Regions from separate parts of the Homo sapiens genome. Here region 1 is linked to region 2. Evidence: fine-mapped expression QTL. A gene starts in region 2. The other region holds a variant in brackets. All regions are shown on one strand. Distances are from middle to middle.

Region 1 (2,912 bases), 25 kb after region 2:
TTTCCATTTCTACTGCTCTCCCTTAATTTAGGTCTTCAAAATTAACTTATGTTAATGATGACAATAGCAGTCTCATAACTGACCTTTCATCATCAATAATGGCTCTCCTAACTCACATCCCCAACCCTCACTTCATTCTCCAAATCACTTCAGGGCAACAGTTTAAAAATGGAAATCTGATTATCATTCCCTCCTCAAAATTCTTCAACAGCTCACCATTGTTTGTTTACAATACAAATTCTAAGCCCTAATTATTCAAACAGATCCTTTCTCTGTTTTCCTTCCTATTCCAGCCTCCTCTCCCAGAGCCCATACCTCTAAGGCCAATTTGTTGGCCCAGATCTTAATACTCTTAATACTGGGAGTTCTTGACACTCTATCTCCCATGCATGCAAACTCAGTACCCTCTAGCCCAGCAACTCTGGGTCATTTTCAACACTCTAACTAGAAGTCGGCTCCACCAGGAAGCTTTTCTTAACTCCCAGACTGGCTTAGGGCTCTCTCCAGCCTTCATTAGACTCTGGCCTTGCCTCTCCCAGTTTTCTTCATTCATGGAGCTGGGTTCGTTTGTTTACTCCACTTACTTTCCCATTAGCCACCAGCTCCTTTAAAGGCAGGGACTGTTAGGTGCAGAAGTCCCCATGTTGAAAATAATATCTGGCATATAGAAGACACCTTATAATTATTTACTGAATGAACAGTTCTTTAGGCCCAGGCTCATGGCACCAATTTCTTTCTCTTCTGCAAAGGTGAAGGAAAAAAGAAGTAATGGTTTGGGAGTCAGGAAGTCTGGCTATTAGTATTTGCTCTACTCAGGTGTGTGGCTATGCCTAAGACAATCAATTACTCAGTGTCATTGTCCTCATAAAAAAGGGTGGGTGGGTGAGAGGAGGTGATTTCCTGTCTATCCACTTTTTAGGAAGAAAACAGAATGAATAATAACAAAATGGTCAGTAATGGAATAGTACTTTCAAGAGGCAAAACATGTACATAAAGTCCTAGTAATATTTCAAATAAAGAGCCCACTGAAGGATATAACTTAGTAAAAATAAATCTATCCACACGTATTTTCTACCTTATAATTGATTTTAATGCAATTTTTTAAAATCAAAAAGGAATATTATTTGTTTTGTAACACTCCTGGGAATCATCATAATACTGCCTCCCTGGGTCAGGTCTGGGCTGAAAGACATGTTTGAAAATGTTGAGTTTGAAGTGCCCATGGAGGACATTCATTTGGACACATCTAGAGCAGTGGGATATTTGAACTCCCCTATCTCCTTTAAGGATTTTTAATTAGAGTCAGATTATAATGGAATTGGAATTAAAAGTTCTATTTACTGAGTATATGTACCATGAATTCACTTAATGTTTATAAGAAAGTGTTAAAAAATGTTGAATAATGCCTTGCATTATGTAGGGATCTAATCTTTTTTTTTTTTTTTTTTTTTGAGACGAAGTCTCGCTGTGTCGCCCAGGCTGGAGTGCAATGGCGCAATCTTGGCTCACTGCAACCTCCGCCTCCCGGGTTCAAGCAATTCTCCTGTCTCAGCCTCCCAAGTAGCTGGGACTAAACTGCAGGTGCATGCCACTATGCCCAGCTAATTTTTTGAATTTTTAGTAGAGACAGAGTTTTACCATATTAGTCAGGCTGGTCTCAAACTCCTGACCTCAGGTGATCTACCCACCTCAGCCTCCCAAAGTGTTGGGATTACAGGCGTCAGTCACTGTGCC[C/T]GGCCGGGATCTAATCTTAAAAATTTATCTTAGAAGCGCCTTTCAAATTTTTTTTTTAATGGAAAGAGAAAAATGGGGTAAAAATCCCAAGTTCATGGTTAAAAATCTGACATTTTAGCCAAAAATTGTGCATTTAGGTGTTCTTTTTAAAAGTAAATCACAGAACTAAGCTAAATACAGATGTTCCTTGACATATGATGGGTTATAGCCCAGTAAACCCATTGTTAAGTTGAAAACGTCTTAAGTTGAAAATGCATTTAATGCACCTAATCTACTGAACGTAACCACTCTTAGCCTACACTACCTTAAATGTGCTCAGAACACACACTTAGCCTACAGGTGGGGAAAGTCATCTGGCAACAGAGGACACCGTAGGGTACTGGTTGTTTTGAGATCACATGGCTGACTGGGAGCTGCAGGTTACTGCTGCTGCCCAGAATTGCTAGAGTATTTCACCACCTATCACTAGCCTTGGAAAAAATCAAAACCCCAAATGCAAAGTATGGTTTCTATTGAATGTGTATCACTTTCACACCATCCTAAGTTGGGGATCATCTGTATTCTTAAGGTTTGGTTTTGTTTTCGTAGTTCTGACTGATGGAAACTACCTAAAATGCATTTCCTTTTCAGTAACTTTCAATAAAACAATGAAATGACACGTTTTTGGTGATAGTTGTTATCCCCTGAAAACACAGTAAAAATACGTGAAGTACCCATAAAAGACCATTTAACTTTCAGAGAGGAACTATATCGATAAGCAGAGCAGCACCTGGGCACGTCTCCTATCACCTGAGAAACAGGTGTAACCGTGTCACTGCACTCACTGCTCCTGGCCAACTCCTCCATCTGCTGGGTTCCCTCTCATTGGCCCCTGTCTGAATTTGAGTCCTTATTATCTCTCACAGGAACCTCTGTAGGATACAGGAGGCCTTCCTGGTCCCCTACCTGTGCGTCTCTTTAACTGTCCCCAAAGCATCTCCCACTCTGACACTTTGTGTTCCAGTTATTCTGCCATCCTCTCAGGACTTTGTGCTTCTATGCATGCCTGGAATGCCCACACCACTGATGTCCACTGGCCAACTCCTACTCATGCTTCATGTCCCATCTCAAATGGTCCCTGTGAAGGCTTCCCCTCAGGTGCTCCTTCACCTAACTGCCACTGCACTTAAAGTCCTTCA
Region 2 (2,912 bases):
TGAAGCTGGAGAGGAAGGCAAGAGTTTAAAGTATTAAACTATATAAACATAAACTACTGTTAGCTCATCTATGATGATCAGTCTACTGAATCTCATTATTGATTTTTCAGCACATACATTTCAGTAGCCCTGTCAGAATTAAAACAAACCAAATAATTTTAAGAGCTAAACTGTGGCAAGAGTTTAAAAAAAAAAAAGAATCCAAGCTGCTGCTACTTTTTAAAAAATTTTGTCTAGAAAATGCAAATAAAAACACAAGGTTGGGGAAGGAGCAAAACAAAATCTAAACAGGAATCTTTTTACAAAAACGTTAGAATAAAAAGAACAGGGCCGGGGAAGAATAAACAGCAACTAATCAATTCTTGAGGGAACTGGAAAGGAATATCTCTTACAAAGCAGGGAAAGATGCTTTGGGAGGAAGGTGAGCAAGTTTTGGGGAAAACCCGCAACGGAGAAAGAAAGGAATGGGGAGAGGATGGGACTAAATTGTGGAAAATGTAGAAGATGGAGAAAAAAGAATGGGGTTGGATGCAAGCATAAAGAAGAAAGGAAAAAGACCTGGCGGAAAGAAGAGGAGCGGAATCGATATACATACAAAACAGGAAATGGAGCTGGGAGTGGGAGATACTACCGGGTACAGGATTCAGAAGAGGAAGAGGTGGGGCGGGAATGACGGACCTGTGGGAATGAGGTTGAAGGTGCATAGTGGCGGGGGGTTTTAAGGGCGGCGATGGACGGAGACAGGTTATGATGTGAGAGAACGAGCTAGGGAGAGGGCCCAGAGATAGGTTGGGAGTAGGGTGGGGGAAACAGTGATCTAAAGGGACAAGAGGCAGGGGCTTGGAGGAGCAGGGCCGTAAGAAAGAACGCGGCTAACGGGATGAGAATGAAGGCGCCAACACACTGCCAAGATGGAGTGGGAAAAAACTAGAGAGGGATGAGGCGGAGGGCAAAGGATCGGAGAGAGGGGATGAGGATGGCTAGGGAAGAACGGCAGAAGTTCGGCCCAGAATAAAGAACAGGGTCAGGACAGAAGACGTGTTTGGAGAGAAGACAGACTTGAGTGGAGGGGAATGGAGGTGCACTGAGCGGGGAAACCTCCTGGGCTGCTGGAAGGTGGGGACAGGTGGGAGTCTGGCAGATAACTGCTCACCGTAGAGTCCTTAAAGGACGTGCCCGGAAGAAAGGGCAAGCCATGCACGGGATTGGACACCATTGCAGCCGGTACCACCGCCGCCACCTAGGTCCTGCTTCGTCCTCTCCGGTTGCCCAGGCGACAAGCAGTGTTCGCGGGCACCTCCAGGATCCATGGTAACGCTAAACATCCGGAACTCCCACGAGCGGAAGGCGGGGCCAGGAGGCGCAGGCATCACAGGAGGTTTGCGCGTGCGCCATCCGCAGGACTCCGCGTTCTCGCGGTAAGTGGGCCGCGGCCTTGGAGCGCGGCTAGTGGGCGTGGTTGTGTCGGCCCCTCCTCTTCCGCTTCGCCCCGCCCCGCTCCCGGAGGATGAGACGTGGGAGCTGTTGGGTGGCGCGGGGAAAGGCGGGTGTAGCGAGGCGGTAGTTCTCGCTGTGAGATCCGGGGTCCGAGCAGGCCCTTAGATGAGTTGCAGAGAGGGACGTTCCTTCTCTCCTTCCACCTAGTCCTGGCGGACCTCACTGCGCCCCGCCAACGCTGTGAGCTCAGGCACTCTTTTCTCCCCCCTCTGCCCCATTTCACACAGAAGTGTAAATGGTCGGTCCAGTTGGCAGTGCTACTAAACTAGACCCATGCTTCTTGTAGGCAGGGGCCGAGGATTACCCATGATTGTGTTTCTGTTGCTCAGGGATGGTCAATGAACTAATGCAATCATCTCATCCTTAATTCTCCCACTGCCACATTGTATTTTTCCCCTTTTAACTCTTTTTTAAAATCAATCTTTCTCTTTCTTTCTTTCCTTTCTTTCTTTCCTTTCTTTTCTTTTTCCTTCCTTCCTTCCCTCCTTCCCTCCGTCCCTCCTTCCCTCCTTGCTTCCTTCCTTCCTTCCCTACTTCCCTCCTTCCGTAGAGATAGTGTCCCACTATGTTGCCCAAGCTGGTCTCGAATTCCTGGGGTCAAGCGATCCGCCCACCTCGCCTCCCAAAGTGCTGGGATTACAGGCATGAGCCACCGCGCCCAGCTCTCTTTATTCTACCATCAATCCCTTCGGTTAAACACCTTTGTTTTTGTAGGGAAAGCCTTGAATATGTGCTGCAGGGCAGGGTGCACTCTGATAGGTACTTGATTTTTGTTGACTGAAGAGCTGCAGGTTGAAGGGTGGTCACCTCAATCCCTCGTTTGTACCTGCAGCTGCAATGAAAAAGATCAGAACCACTAGGAGGAACACAGCTCCTTCAAAGAGAAAGACTAAGTCTTGGGAAAGAAGCAGATAAGTGAGGTGAAATATTGTCAGCATCATAGGTATAGCCTTTGATGCTTTTTACAAAACTTGCTTAAATTATTTTTTCTTAAAAGAAACATAATCCTATTCCTGAAACATTTTTTTTGGGGGGGGGGGGAGAAAGCTATCCATCATTGCTGAGGAGCTTAAAAATAAAAAGTAATCAAAACCCACGTGCCGAGAGATTTGGATTCATTAGGTCTGACATGGAGGCCAGGAATCTGATTTTTGTAACAGGCGTTTGTGACAAGCCAGTTTAGGAACATGATAGAGTAATAAGCCAGACACAGAAGGCATATCTCAGTGTCACAGGTAGTTTACTGCCAATACAGACAGCAGCTTTACTTTTATTGCTGCTTGTCAGAGCAAATCCCCCTGTTGGGTTTCACTAATTTGTGTGACGCTCAGGAGGCCCAGGACATGAATGCATTAAGTGGCACCTGAGGCAGTTATTGATGCCTGCTTACCATACCCTGCCCAGAGAGTTTCCTT

The links. PIP is the estimated chance that this variant, and not a neighbour inherited with it, causes the effect.
Region 1: its variant is fine-mapped to the expression of EFHC1 in blood mononuclear cells (TOPMed, PIP above 0.99).

Annotation. Positions count from the first base shown.
Region 1 is chr6:52,393,812-52,396,723 of GRCh38, reverse strand. All of the region lies in intron 1 of PAQR8 (progestin and adipoQ receptor family member 8), which reads right to left. Among named protein-coding and RNA genes, the nearest start is that of EFHC1, 25 kb to the left of the region's middle. The variant C/T (reference allele first, on the strand shown) is at 1,735.
Region 2 is chr6:52,418,715-52,421,626 of GRCh38, reverse strand. It overlaps EFHC1 (EF-hand domain containing 1), which reads right to left and starts at 1,285. Exons shown (of 11, transcript NM_018100.4): 1 at 1,154-1,285. The coding sequence starts at 1,216. LOC124901331 (a long non-coding RNA gene) reads left to right here and starts at 646. Exons shown (of 2, transcript XR_007059611.1): 1 at 646-1,418. RefSeq lists an enhancer at 725-1,316.